Regions from separate parts of the Homo sapiens genome. Here region 1 is linked to region 2. The links come from fine-mapping of genetic effects on gene expression. Tissue or cell type: monocytes after interferon gamma. Region 2 holds a variant in brackets; the other region holds the start of a gene. All regions are shown on one strand. Distances are from middle to middle.

What was found. PIP is the estimated chance that this variant, and not a neighbour inherited with it, causes the effect.
Region 1: it holds the start of MNAT1, and the variant in region 2 is fine-mapped to the expression of MNAT1 in monocytes after interferon gamma (Fairfax 2014, PIP 0.95).

The regions. Positions count from the first base shown.
Region 1 is chr14:60,731,353-60,739,052 of GRCh38, reverse strand. It overlaps MNAT1 (MNAT1 component of CDK activating kinase), which reads right to left and starts at 4,292. Exons shown (of 8, transcript NM_002431.4): 1 at 4,102-4,292. The coding sequence starts at 4,190. RefSeq lists enhancers at 3,999-4,068, 4,179-4,278.
Region 2 is chr14:60,841,085-60,848,784 of GRCh38, reverse strand. The region is part of intron 6 of MNAT1 (MNAT1 component of CDK activating kinase); the gene reads right to left. Among named protein-coding and RNA genes, the nearest start is that of MNAT1, 110 kb to the right of the region's middle. The variant G/A (reference allele first, on the strand shown) is at 3,089.

The sequences.
Region 1 (7,700 bases), 110 kb after region 2:
AAACAGATACTCCAGGCCCAGTCAAATCTAGACTGCAGTCCTAGCCAACAACTTGATTACAACATCCTAAGACCGAGCCAGAATCATTCAGCAAAATAATACCTGCTCTTCTCAGACTAACAAGCATATTATAAAAATGCCTATATTCAATCCCATGAAATATATGCCATAAAAACTCAACAAACTATCAAAAAATTTTTCATTAAGAGCCAAAATGAGGCTGGACACGGTGGCTCACGCCTGTAATCTCAGCACTTTGGGATGCCAAAGCGGGTGGATCACCTGAGGTCGGGAGTTCAAGACCAGCCTGACCAACATGGAGAAACCCCATCTCTACTAAAACTACAAAATTAGCCAGAGGTAGTGGCGCATGTCTGTAATCCCAGCTACTCGGAAGGCTGAGACAGGAGAACTGCTTGAACCCGGGAGGCAGAGGTTGTGGTGAGCTATCACGCCATTGCACTCCAGCCTGGGCAACAAGAGCAAAACTCCATCTCAGGCCGGGCGCAGTGGCTCACACCTGTAATCCCAGCACTTTGGGAGGATCGAGGCGGCTGGATCACGAAGTCAGTAGTTCGAGACCAGCCTGGCCAACATAGTGAAACCCCGTCTCTACTAAAAATACAAAAATTAGCCGGGCATGGTGGCATGCGACTGTAGTCCCAGCTACTCGGGAGTCTGAGGCAGGAGAATCACTTGAACCTGGGAGGTGGAGGTTGCAGTGAGCCTAGATCATGCCACGGCACTCCAGCTTGTGTGACAGAGCAAAACTTCGTCTCAAAAAAAAAAAAAAAAAAAATCCAAGATGTTTTTCTTATCAGAAAAGCATCTGATAAGATGCTTTTAAACATCTTTTAAAATGCAAGATTTTAAAAAATAATATTAGCCAATATAGGCAAAGTTGTGTGGCAATAGGAATCTCCATACAGTTGTTGGTAACATAATTGACAAGATCTTTTTTTTTTTTTTTTTGTAAGATAGGGTTTCCCTCCTGGCTAACACGCTGAAACCCCGTCTCTACTAAAAATACAAAAAAATTAGCCGGGCGTGGTAGCGGGCGCCTGTAGTCCCAGCTACTCGGGAGGCTGAGGCAGGACAATGGCGTGAACCCGGGAGGCGGAGCTTGCAGTGAGCCGAGATTGCGCCACTGCACTCTAGCCTGGGCGACAGAGCGAGACTCCTTCTCAAAAAAAAAAAAAAAGGATAGGGTTTCCCTATGTTGTCCAAGTTGGTCTCGAACCCTCCCTCCTCAGCCTCCCAAGTAGCTAGGATTACAGGTAGGAACAACCATGCCTGTCTTGACATAATCTTTTTTGAGAACAACTGGGCCATATTTATCAAATTTAAAAGCCACAAACTCTGACCCAACAATTCTACTACTGGACATTACCTTGTGATTTTTACCTGTTATATCTTATGATATACTGGCCTAAATGCTCAAAGACATATATGTACATATATATGCATATTTATGGATGCTTACTCCAAGGAAAAACTGGATAATTAAATATTAATTTTAAAAATTGGGGTAAATAAATTATATTTGAACAATGGACTACTATCAAATTGTTAAAAGAGGAAAACATATGCATATTGATCTAGAGAGATTATCCAATATACATAATGAAAAAAGCAAGGAAATATATATATATACACACATATATATATGTTTATGCTATATTCCTGTTTATGCTAAAGGAAGAAAAAGTTTTCTACCCAAACACACCCATGTTTGTATATGCATAGAAAATATCCGAAAATATACACAAACAACCTAAAAGTTGTCACCTCTGGAGAAGTGAACCACAGAAATTTTTACCTTTCACTTAATAACTTACGTTGCTTTTATTATTAATAGCTTATATAATTTTAAATTTTTTAAATGATTGCCAAAAAAATCAGTGAGTTCTCTCCTCCATTCAGAAACAGCAGTGTGTTAGCCTAGATTAAAGTACTTCTTTAAAAGGATGATTAATTAGACAACATGCTAAAGAGTTCATATTAAGAAAATTACAACAGAGTCCTTATAATTAAAGCTGTATTTTCACATTTCATAGTGTACTGAAATCATTTAAAGCTAATCATTATTGTGCAAGTATTTCATAGCAGGCCAAATAAGTCCTGTTTTAATTTTATTTCTGCTTATCACCCATGCCACACAAAGAATAATAATAATAAAATAGCCAATATATAGTAAACAAATATTATGTGACAGAATACTAAATATCTCTAAATATTTTCCATATATTATTTAATACTTAAGGACCGTGATACAAGCAGCACTATTTTCTCTATTGTACCAACAAGAAGAACGGCTAACAAAGAGTTAGTCATTTCCCTAAGGCCACAGAGCCGGTAAGAGTAAAGAATGTGAAATCAGACAGGCTCATTCCAAAGCTTGTTCTCTCAGCCAATACGCTACAGCTTTTCACTCATTTTGTTCACATTTCAAGTCAAAAAAGGACTGTAAAATGTAGCCTGTTATCTAACAGGTTAGCAAATTAACCACATTAAATGCAACACCAGAATGAATTAGACAAAAGTCTTAACTCTTAGATCTTAACAAAAAGGGCTGAGGATACAACAAAAGCAATTTCAATTAAAATAAATATTTTATACTTGCCCAATTAAAATGCCATTTATGTTACTGAAATCGTATAATCTTCCCTGAATGGCTAAGTGCTGCTAGGCCAGAAAATTACATTTAGCATCCTTCTGGTAAATTACATTTAGTTAGTATCCTTCCCAAAAAAAAAAACAAACTCTCTTTCCTGTTCCACCATAACAAACCTGATAAAGAAAAATGGAGAGAAATTGAACGAAATCTCTCTAAAAACAGTCTATCTACAGTGTTTTTCCATGTAGAATTCCCTTTTCCATGCATTCTTCTTGATTACTTTTACCTTACTTCTAATCTTAAATCATTCAATCACAGCTCTACTATACTTCTTTGCAGAGTAAAGCAAAGGAAAATAAAGATCAATTAGAAAAGTTAAGTAAGCTAATAAATTCCATATAATAATTATAGCTACAGCTAATCATGCAATTTATGCTTACCTAAAGACCCTGTCATTGCTCTACATTTTTGTCAGCACTTGGGGGGTTGGGAGGAGACCTTGTCTACACACTGTAGATTATCCATTATTTTTTGCCTCCAATAAACCTGAAAGAAACTACAGGAATATATGCTCGCCATTACATGGCACCTTTTTATCTCAAAGTGCTTTCTAGAACCACCTTCACTAAACCACATCTGACAAGAAATCTGGCAAGAAACACTTTGACCAATCCCTGTTTCAAAATACACAAACTCAACCTCCCTCCTTCTGCCCCCTTCCCCTGAAAATGGGCGTTCTAAAGTCAGACTTCCTGGGTTCCAATTCTCTCAAGGCCCACTTAATAAGGGACCTTGAGCAGTCTCGATTTCCTTCCCTGTGAAATGGAAATACCAGTATCTACTTCATGGGACTGTTGTAGGAATGAACTGAGATAATTCATGGTAAGGCGCTTAGAACACTGTCTGGCACAAAATGTGCACTCAAATGCCAGCCATTATTATATCTTCAAAATTAACTACCTACAGTCCGGGTTTTCTTCATTTTAGTGATGGGAGTCTAACCGAACTCCATCAGGACAAGTGGGCATACACACAGGGTTTTTTAATTAACTCATACAATAAATAGCAGCAGTATATACTCAAGCAAATTTTAAGTTTTCATAGCACTTTCGCACTTTTTCAATAAAAACATTTCATATGAAATAAACACTCCAATCCCCCACGCTTTTAATCAGCGATGTCCAGAGCCCAGTAAACAACACAAAGCCTGGAAATACAGTCGGGATACTCATTGGCTATGGAAGGGGGAACCTGACAAACTGCTGGATGCCACACTGAGAACCCGCAGTTCAAAGCAGGCCAGAGCCGCTCGGGGCTAGCGGCTACAGTCTATTTAAAGTCACAACGCCTTCTTTTCCCATTTTCCTCCCCAGTGTTGAAACTAACAACGCCCTTTGCTCCCAAGACGAGGCCTAGCATCTCCCGGTCCTCTCCTCCCACCCAGCGCGTCTCTCCCCCAGGGAATCCACTGCCGCCCAACTCACAGAGTGTGTCCGCACACATTCACCATCAGCTTCAAGGAGGGGTTCCGATATTTGGTGGTCTTACACCGAGGGCAACCCTGATCGTCCATGGCGGTTTCCCTCCTACAGACTCTCGCAGGCGCCTGTTTCAGCCAGAGCCACCTACAAGCCCCCTCAGACGCGACCAAGCAGGTTCCTACCAACAGGCGCTTGGCAGAGACGGTCCCTTCGCGAAAGAGCACCGGCAAGGGGCGAGGCGCTGCAACACAAACGTTCCGGCAGTCAGTTCCCCCGGTCTTGCATCTAGGGCTTGGTCTTAGCCTTCCATAAAGCAACTTAATACCTTGAATTTGACAGGGGAACTTTTAAAATGGCAAATTATACAAAGCCTTATCTCCACGCACCCAGTTGCATTTTTCAAGGTACTGTGTCACAATTAGGAAGATAAATTCCATCTTGTTCTGTCTGGAAACATTCCCATGATTTCAAAGATTTATGAGCGGTGTACTTACTTTCTTTTGGACCATTTAATAGCCTGTGCTTTATACTTCTTTATAATTGCATAGTCATGTCAGCTCAGCTGATAATATGCATTCGCAGATACAAAATATGAAAAAGCTATCTACTCCATCAGACAGTATTTATTTCCCCAAATACCTAGGAAAAAATCATATAAGAATACATACAGAAAAATTTAGTTCTGCAATTCCAAGATCTGATAGCCTGAATATCTTTGTAAATTGTAAACCATGTTCATCACATTTATCAAGAAGGCAAATTGAAGTCTGTAAACAGCTCTATTAAATAATAAGCTTTCCCACTGTAAAGGACACATCTTATTCATCTCCAAAATAAAGATTTGTTGATTCTTAATGAGTAAGTAGACTAAGTGAAGAATTAATGAATGACTATCAAACAATAGTGTAATGTGAAAATTTTTAGTGTCAAACATTTTTTGTAACCACCTTCATCTGACCCAAACTCCATCAGAAGGGAACATGCAAACTAGATTTTTCAAATAATCTGATACAATGAGTATAAGCTATAAACATTTATAGTAATTTTAACTCATCATAGAACTTGTGTTCTTTTCAATAAAAAGTAATATTCAATTCACATTTTTAAACAGTGAACCTGGTAGGGAACCCAAAACCCAAAAATACAGTTGGGATTTCCATGGGTATAGAGAGGGATGCTGACAAACAGCTGGATACCACACCCAGGAACCAGCAGATCAAAGCAGGCTGTGACAGAGCTTTACATTAGTATGAAGACATCAAGGATTCATCTAATAAATAAACCATATCATCTCTTTGATCATAATATTGTTCCTCAACAGGAGTTAACCAAACATAAACTTACTAAAATAGGTAACACCAAATACTATGCTACTATGCTGACCCGGAGGCTTATTATGCTGCTGCTATTGTCTTATTGAAAGACCACATCCAGACCAGTTACATGATTCAGAGTGAAGCTCTTCAAGAACAAAGGCAACTCTAGTACTTTATATTTTGGACCATTTAATAGCCTGTGCTTTATACTTCTTTATAACTGCATAGTCATGTAAGCTCAGCTGATAACATACAAGAAACTTCTGGTGAAAGAATGAATATGTCATATGTGCAAATAAAATTTTTAGCCAATACTACATTGAGGTCATCCACTCAGATGGCATTATAGTTTATTGCCACTAGGACAATTTTTGTGTGTTTGTTTGTTTGTTTTGAAACAGGATCTCCTTCTGTTGCCCAGGCTAGAGTGCAGTGGCCCGATCACAATTCATTGCAGCCTTGAACTCCTGGGCTCAAGTCATCCTCCCACCTCAGCCTTCTAAGTAGCTGGGACCTCAGGCACTAGCCACCAGTCCCAGCTAATTTTTTATTTTATTTTTTTAAGAAATGGGATCTCACTATGTTGCCCAGGCTGGTCTTGAATTCCTGGGCTCAAGCAGTCCTCCTACCTCAGGCTCCCAAAGTGCTGGGATTACAGGCATGAGCCTGTAATGATGCCCAGCTATCCAGGACAGTTTTAATTACGTCTTTGAAGATGAGACCCCAACCACGTTGCGAAGTGAATTGCTTTTCCTTTCTCCCAAAACTTAAGATTAAGGCAAAGAAAGCACTAAAGATTGTGAGAAGCAGCAATGCTACAAGCTTTATCCTTTTCCTAGGTGGGAAACTACTAACTTGGAAGCATGGTAGCAACAGCTGACTTGGAAATCTGTCAGATAAGCTTTACTTATGGACCTAAAGACAGTAGAAAATAGCACTTATAGATTTGGTCTCTAGTACCAAGAGAGCTGAATTCAAGTGCTGGCTTCATCACATGATTTATATGACCTTGAGCCTCAGTTTTCCCAATTCTAAGTTCAGGATAGTACTTGTAAAGAATAAAAGATACTTCATTTAAAACACCTAGCATAGAGTAAGAGCTTAGTAACTGCTGGCCATTATTAATGGTAGCATTAGGATACTGGCAGTAGTATTATCTAAAAGAGGCGGGACAATATAATAATAAGAGCCCAACCTTCTTTTACATCAGTCAGACCTGTGTTTGAAGCAAATTTCCAATCCTCCCGTTCCTGTTTCCTTCTTGCATATAATACACTTCATAAAATTGCTGTAATGATTAAATTACATGACATAGACATACATAAAGGCCCTAATACAATGCCTCATACATTACAGAAGCTCTGAAATGTACATCATTATCACTGGTGGGGATGAATAACATGGAATGGTCAGAGAGCTTTGAGGAGGAAAGCACTGACGGCACCAGGTTCCTAATTCAAATGGAACCTCAGCCTATGTAGAAAACCACCAAACTCAAGTTTCCTACATTTCTTTTTTTTTTTAGGAGAAAATAATTTATCAACCATAACATATAATTTTGAAAGGTTAAAAACACATTCGTCTCAACACAAAAATTCAATCATGCTTAAGTTCCTTCCAACGTGTTCATCCAAGGTGAACCTTCATATGTTTACAAATTCTTTTTCTTTATGAATTTTTGTTGACTAAGAACAAATTTTTTTCATTTTCTGAACTTCAAAATTATGCATTTTTCTATATGCTATACATATGAAACTTACGCTTCCTATGTATTGTTTTTGTTTTACTACTTTATTTTTTTTAGGTTTTTTATTATTATACTTTAAGTTATAGGGTACATGTGCACAACATGCAGGTTTGTTACATATGTATACATGTGTTGTGTTGGTTTGCTGCACCCATTAACTCGTCATTTACATTAGGTATTTCTCCTAATGCTATCCCTCCCCCATCTCCCCACCCCACGTCAGGCCCCGGTGTGTAATGTTCCCTGCCCTATGTCCAAGTGTTCTCAGTGTTCAACTCCTACCTATGAGTGAGAACATGCGGTGTTTGGTTTTCTGTCCTTGTGATAGTTTGCTCAGAATGATGGTTTCCAGTTTCATCCATGTCGCTACAAAGAACATGAACTCATCCTTTTTCATGGCTGCGTAGTATTCCATGGTGTATATGTGCCACATTTTCTTAATCCAGTCTATCACTGATGGACATTTGGGTTGGTTCCAAGTCTTTGCTATTGTGAATAGTGCTGCAATAAACATACATGTGCATGTGTCTTTATAGTAG
Region 2 (7,700 bases):
TATAGTCCTCCAGAAAAGTCAATACTTTAATTATTATAAGCCTTATTTTTATATGTGTTTTTATGTGACATATATAGAGTAAATACATCTATAGGGGATATGTTTATGAAATCCCATGAAGCAAGAAAAAAATCTGAAAGCAACAGTACATAACGCCACAACATGAAGTAAAACAAAAAAATTAACACGGTATCACCATTTCTTATAACAAAGATGCTTAAGTAGTCATTCCTCAGAGAGGTATTATTGAATTACATGGCAATAAAAGCTTGAGGAAAATTATATAAAACTTGAGGGAATCATATAAAAATAAATTCAGGCTGTAACTATTTTTAAAACACAATGAAAATCTAAACTACCAGTTCATGCTAAAGCCCAAAAAGGGTGACAAAATTAGTAAAGTTAAAGCCCTGCTGGGCCCTAAAAATACAGAAAGATGAACACAAAGAGAAAATCTTAAAAGCAGCAAAAGAGAAAATACTTATCACACACAATGGACCCTCAATGAGACTAACAGCTGACTTAGCATCAGAAACCATAGAAGTCAGAAGGTAGTGGAACGATATATTCAAACGGCTAAAAGAAAAACACTAAACCAAGAATTCTTTATCCAAATAAACTACCCTACAAAACTGAGGCAGAATAAAGACATTCCCAGGTAAAGACTGAGGAATCTGTAAAAATAGTAAAGATGTCCTGCAGGCTAAAAGGAAATGATACCAAGCAGTAACTCAAATTCTCACAAAGAAATGAAGAATACTCAAGAGGTAATTACATAGACAAATCTAAAAGACTGAATAAAAACTTTTCTCTCTTTATTCCTCTTAACAAATTTACAAAACAGCTACAAAAAAAAACCTGTAAAACTGTATGGTTAATCTTACAGCATATAAAATATAATACATATGACAATGGCACTCTCCAGGAGAGGAAAAGGAATGAAGCTATACAGAATTAAATATTCTACATATTACTAACACTGAATTAGTATTAATATGAAGTCAATTGTAATAAGTCAATATGCATATTGTAACCCTAGGTCAACCAATATAAAAACACTTAAAAATATGCATAGTAAAAAGAAAATAATTTAAATGTGCACAAGAAAATATCTATTTAACACAAAAAAGAGCAATAAATGAGGAAGAGAAGAACAAAAAGCACCATGAGAAATATACAAAACAAACATTAAACGTAAATAGCTTGAACACTATAAAAACAAAGACTATCCAAATGAAAAACATCCAGCACACATTAGAATCAAAGATATAAAATAGGTTGAAAGCAAAAGTGTGAAACAAGATAAACAATGTAAACAATAACCATAAGAGAGCTGAAGTAGCTGTACTAAAATAAAACAAGTCTTTTTTTTTTTTTTTTTGAGACGTTGTCTCACTCTTTCACCCAGGCCAGACTGCAGTGGTGCGATCTTGGCTCACTGCAACCTCCGCCTCCTGGGTTCATGCCATTCTCCTGCCTCAGCCTCCTGAGTAGCTGGAACTACAGGTGCCCGCCAACACACCCAGCTAATTTTTTGTATTTTTAGTAGAGACGGGGTTTCACCGTGTTAGCCAGGATGGTCTCGATCTCCTGTCCTCATGATCCGCCCGCCTCGGCCTCCCAAAGTGCTGGGGATTACAGGTGTGAGCCACCGTGCCCGGCAAATAAAACAAGTCTTTAAGACAAAAACTGTTACTAGAGACAAAAGCATTTCATAATGATAAAAGGGTCAATATCATGAAGATATAAAAATTATAAACATACAAAAGGAGTCTCAAAATACATGAAGCAACGCTGGACAGAATTGAGAGAGAAATAAACAATTCAACAATAATAGTCAGAGATTTCAAAACTCCACTCAATAATTGATAGACAAACTAGACAGAAAATCTGTAAGGACACAGAAGACTTCAACATAACCATCAAGCAACATGATGTAACTAACATCTAACACATTCTTCCCAAATATAGAATAAAATTTCAAGTACTTGTGGAACATTCTCCACAATAAAAAATATATTTGGCCATAACATAAGTAACGGTAAATTTTAAAAATTGGGATCATACAAAGCATGCCCTCAAACCAAAGTGGAATTAAATTAGAACAACAACCTCTAAATAATCCATGGTCAAACAAGAAATCACAAGAAAAAATTTAAAAATGTATCCAATTGTATGAATATGAAAATACAACATATTATTGTAGCAAAAGCAGTATGTAGAGGTATTATAGCTTTAAATGCCTATTTTTAGAAAAGAAGAAAGACCTCAAATAAATAACCCAAGTTTCCACCTTAAGAAATTAGGAAAAGAAGAGCAAAGCTTATAAGCAGAAGGACAACCATAAATATTAGAATGGAGATCAATGAAATGGAAATCAAAAAAAATTTTTTAAAAATTCTTAAAACCAAGGTTGATTCTTTGAAAAGATCAACAAGACTGTCACACCGCTAGGTTGATGTGCCAAGGGAAAAAAAAGAGAAGGAACAAAACTACCAAAATAAGAAATAAAAGAGTGAACGTGATCCTGACCCTACAGAAATTCAACTTAGAAGAAACTGACCAATTTCTAGGAATACTCAAAATATCAAGACAAGGAATGAAGGAAAAAGAAAAAGGAATAGGAGAATGGGGAAGGGGAGGCAAGGGGAGGAAAGGAAGAGAGGGAGGGAAAAGAGAGGAAGGAAAAAGAAACGGGGATAGAAAAAGGAAGTGTGAATAGGCTTATTATTAGTAAAGAAATTGAAACAGTATTTGGAAATCCTCTCATTAATAAAAGCCAAAACCAGATGGTTCACTGGTAAATTCCATCAAATATTTCAAGAAAAAATAATACCAATGGTTCAGAAACTCTTCTAGAAAGCAGAGGACAAGGGAATATTTTCCAAAACATTTTATGGGGTCAATATTATCCTCATACTAAAGTCTAACAAAGCCACACTAAAACAAGGATGAAGCACAAAAACTTTACACTAAGTCAAAGAAGCTAGGCTCAAAAGACTACATTTTGTATTATTCTATTTATAGAAAATGTCAAAAAAGATAACTATACAGAAACAGAAAGTAGAGAAGTGGTTGCCTAGGGCTC[G/A]GAGTGAAAGCAGAAGTAACTATCAACTATCACAAGGCATCTTCTGCAGGTGATAAACTATTCTAAAACAAGATTATGGTTGCAGATCTCTTTAATATTACTAAAAAATTATTAAATCATATGCTTAATGTGAGTGGATTTTATTGTATGTAAATTATACTTCAATAACTGTTTAAGAAAAAACCGGTTCAGTGACTAGATCAACAACATCTACCTAGACTAATCAAGATTAAAGGCAGAGTGCTGGGAATTTGCTAAAAATTAGCAGTGTAACTCTTATAGGCATTTAAAGAATTAAGAAAATATTATAAACAACTTTATGTCAACAAATACACTTTAGATGAAATTCTCAAATTCTTTGAAAAATACAACTTACTAAAAAAAATAGAGAAAAGCTGAGTAGATTTTTTAACTGAGTTTATAAAAAACCTATATACAAACAAATTAGAGTCCCAGATGGTTTCACTACTGAACCCTATAGAAACACATAAAAAAAAAACATTAATTTCATACAAACTCTTTCAAACATAAGGTAGTAGACCCCACTTTCAAGTGAAGCCAATGACGCTAACAAAACCATTGCTAGCATTACTGATAAAAACATTATATTACTCCAAAGCTAAACAAAGACATCTACAGGAAAAGTATAGAGCCATATCCCTGATGAATACAGACACAAAAATCCTTAATAAAAATATTATCAAATTGAATTCACATATATCATAACCATGTAGAATTTATCACAAGAATGCAAAGTTAATATATAAAAATGAATCAATTTAAATCACTAACAGTATAAAGAAGAAAAATGATATTTAATAAACACAGAAAAAGCACTTGACAGAATTCAACATCTACTCATAACTTTTCAAAAATTTCAGTACTCTAGAAATGGAAGGAACTTTCCTCAATCTGATGAAAGACATTCATGAAAATTCTACAGCTAGTATGACATATAATGTCAAAAGACTAAATGATTTCTCTCTTAGGTGGGGAATAAGGCACTGCAATAGGGCAAGTAACAGAAATAAAAGGCAGAGAAGTAAAACTGTCTCTAAATGCAGTTAACACAATTGTTTATATAAACAATCCTAAAAAATCTAAAAACGACTACTCAATAAGTAAAATAGAAAAGCTCATCGCACGCAAGCCCAATGTAAAAATATACATACCAGGATTAAGCAATAGAAAATGAGATTTGAAATAACTATTTCCTTGAAAAGAGCATCCCACACATAAAATACTTAGGGAAAAAAATGACAATAAGTCTAACACAAACCACTGAAAACTACAAAACATTGCTGAGATAAAGAGGCCCTAAATAAATGAAGCATACCATGTACATGTAGTGGAAGACTCAGTATTTTAGATCTTAATTCTCCCCACATTGATCTATAGATCCAATCAGAATATCAATTATACTTTTACCAAGAATTTTTGTAAAAACTGACAAACTGAATCTAAAATGTTAAGGATATGCAAAAAGCAATCTTGAAAAAGAAAAAGAATTGGAACACTTATACTACCTTAATTCAAGAATTACTATAGTAATCAAGATAAGTTATTGAAACAGAATAAGGAAAACAGAAATAGACCTAAACTTATATGCAGTCAATTGATTTTCAACAAAGGCACCAAATATGTGAAAGCAATCCAATGAAGAAAAGTATTCTCTACAAATACAACTAAATGTTCACATGCAAAAAAGAAACCCAAACAGGTACTGTATACCATACATAAAAATTAATACAAGATGGATCAGGAACCCAACTATAAATGCAAAAACTACAAAGTTTCTAAACAGGAGAATTATCGTTGTGACTTGGGGGAAGGAAAAGGTTCCTTAGATAGGACACAAAAATTACCTTAAAAGAAAAACATTCATAAATCTGACTTCATCAAAATTTATAACTTCAGTTCATCAAAAAACATTACTAAGAAAAAGAAAAAGTGAGCCACAGACAAGAGAAATTATTCATAAAACAGATGTCTGACAAAGGACTTATGTTCAACACATTGTAAAACATTTTACAAATCAATAGTAAAAGCACAAACAACTCAATTTTTTTAATGGACATAAGATTTTAATAGAGTCATCACAAAAAGAGATATAAAAAAGGCAAACGAGGCCGGACGCAGTGGCTCATGCCTGTAATCCCAGCACTTTGGGAGGCCGAGACAGGCGGATCACGAGGTCAGGAGATTGAGACCAGCCTGGCCAACACGGTGAAACCCCGTCTCTACTAAAAATACCAAAAATTAGCCGGGCATGGTGGTGGGTGCCTGTAATCCCAGCAGCTTGGGAGGCTGAGGCAGGAGAATAGCGTGAACCCGGGAGGCGGAGCTTGCAGTGAGCTGAGGTCGCGCCACTGTACTCCAGCCTGGGCGACAGAGCGAGACTCCATCCCAAAAGAAAAGAAAAAAGGCAAACGAATGAATAAAAAATGCTGAAAACCATTAGTTCTCCAGGAAATAAAAATCTAAATTACAATGAGATACTATCAATCATCACCAAAATAACTAAAATTAAAAAGATTGACAACATTAAATATGACTGAAAGTGCTAGGATTACAGGCATGAGCCACTGTGCCCAGCCAGCTGCTTTACTAGTAATAGTCAAAAACTATAAACAGCTCAGGTATTCCCCAACAAGAGAATTGCTAAACAGATATACACACATTCCCTGACTTATGACGGTTTGACTTACAAGTTTTTGACTTCATGATGACGCAAAATCAACAGGCATTCAGTAGAAACTGTAATTCGAATTTTGATCTTTTCCTGGGCTAGCAACATGCAATAGGATGCTCTCTCATGATGCTGGGCTAATGTAAGTGTTCTGAGTACTTGTATTAAGGAAGCCTATACTAAATTATGATGTTCAGCAGGTTAGGTATATTAAATGAATTTTTGACTTATGGTATTTTCAACTTATGATGGGTTTATCTAGACATGCCCCATCAAATAAATTGAGGAGCATTTATATTCAAACAAATGGAATATTACATAGCAATATAAAGCAACTAATTCTTGATATACAAAACAACAAAAACAAGTCTCAAAATATTCTGCTGCTTCTCCTGCATATGACCATTATACAATAACAAGACCAGATTGACCATTCCCCACTTAAGCAACTAGAAAACTGAACAAAATAAGAATCAATGGTTTCCAGAAATTGAGTAACAGCCAGTACAGAACTGTGAGCCCCAAGGGAAGAAAAACAAATGAAATGAACCCTTTGATTGCCCTGGCTTCCTGCATGGGGGCCATTTCCAGGCTATAATACATAGAGAAGTAACCCAAACAGAGCCTAGGAATCAAGGAGACGAAAATCAGACTTCAGGGATCCCAGGGCAGCTATAATTTGCAGGGCAGATTACCAGAGAGGAAAATGCCACACAGAGAAAAAACTCTAAAGTGGGAGTTAACAAATATTTTCTGTAAGGAGCAGATAAGTATTTTAGGCTTTGCAGGCCATATGATCTGCATCATAACTATCCAATGATGCTATTATAATGTAAAAGCAGAAAAATATATGTAAATGAATGAGAATGGCTATGTTACAATAAAACTTTAATTACAGTAACAAGTAGCAGGTGGGATTTAGTCAGTTAGCTGCCGTTTGTCCACCTCTGCTCTAGAGAATTTCACAGTGATGTCCTCAACTTTTGTCTGGGTTTTGAGCTGCACATGAGTGGAAATTACTGAACACCAAGAAATGAACCTGGAAAGCAACGTATTAAACAATTCTCAAAGCTCATACAGAAACAGTTCATATATTCCCAATAAACAAGGTAAAAAGACCTCTCAATAAATACATATGGCATCAGATAGGGTCTTCAGAATAGTATCACCATGAAAGTGGAGCTAAATTAGCCTAACATTAAAATCTGTTCTTGTACATGCTAACAATGCTTAAAAGCAAGATTTGCAAGGATATAATAGATTATAGCTAACTTAACTGCATCCCCAAAGTCTTATAATATTTAATGGAATACCAAAAATTACCAGGTATTCCAAAAAGACAGAAATATGTAACGCACTTCAGGAAAAAAAAATCAGTCAATAGAAGCAGACTCAGAAAGGACAGAAATGTGAAATTAGCAGGACAAGGATATTAATACAGCTAGCATAAATATATTCCACATGTTCATGAAGGTAGAGAAGAAATATGAATGATGAGAGAAATCAAAGGTGCAAAAAAGACCCAAACAGAACATCTAAAGATTAAAAACACACACAACTTTATGTGTTGTATGTGTTAAAAACACACACAACTTTATGTGTTGTATGTGTTAAAAACACACACAATTTTAAAATGAAAAACATAACAAATAAGATAAATAACAGCTTAGACACTACAGAAGATCACTGAAATTGAAGGCTTAATAATAGCAGCCACCTAAAGTACACACATAAAATATAGACTAGAAAAATAATAGACAAAGGAGAGACAGAGAGTGAGAGAGAAAGGTGTGAGAGAGGGAGGACAGAAAGGGGAGATACAAAGGGAGGGAAAGGGAAAAGGAAATGGAAAGGGAGAGAGGGAGAGAGAGAAAGAGAGAGAGAGAGAATCAGTAAGAAAACAGGAAATTTTAACATCAAGTA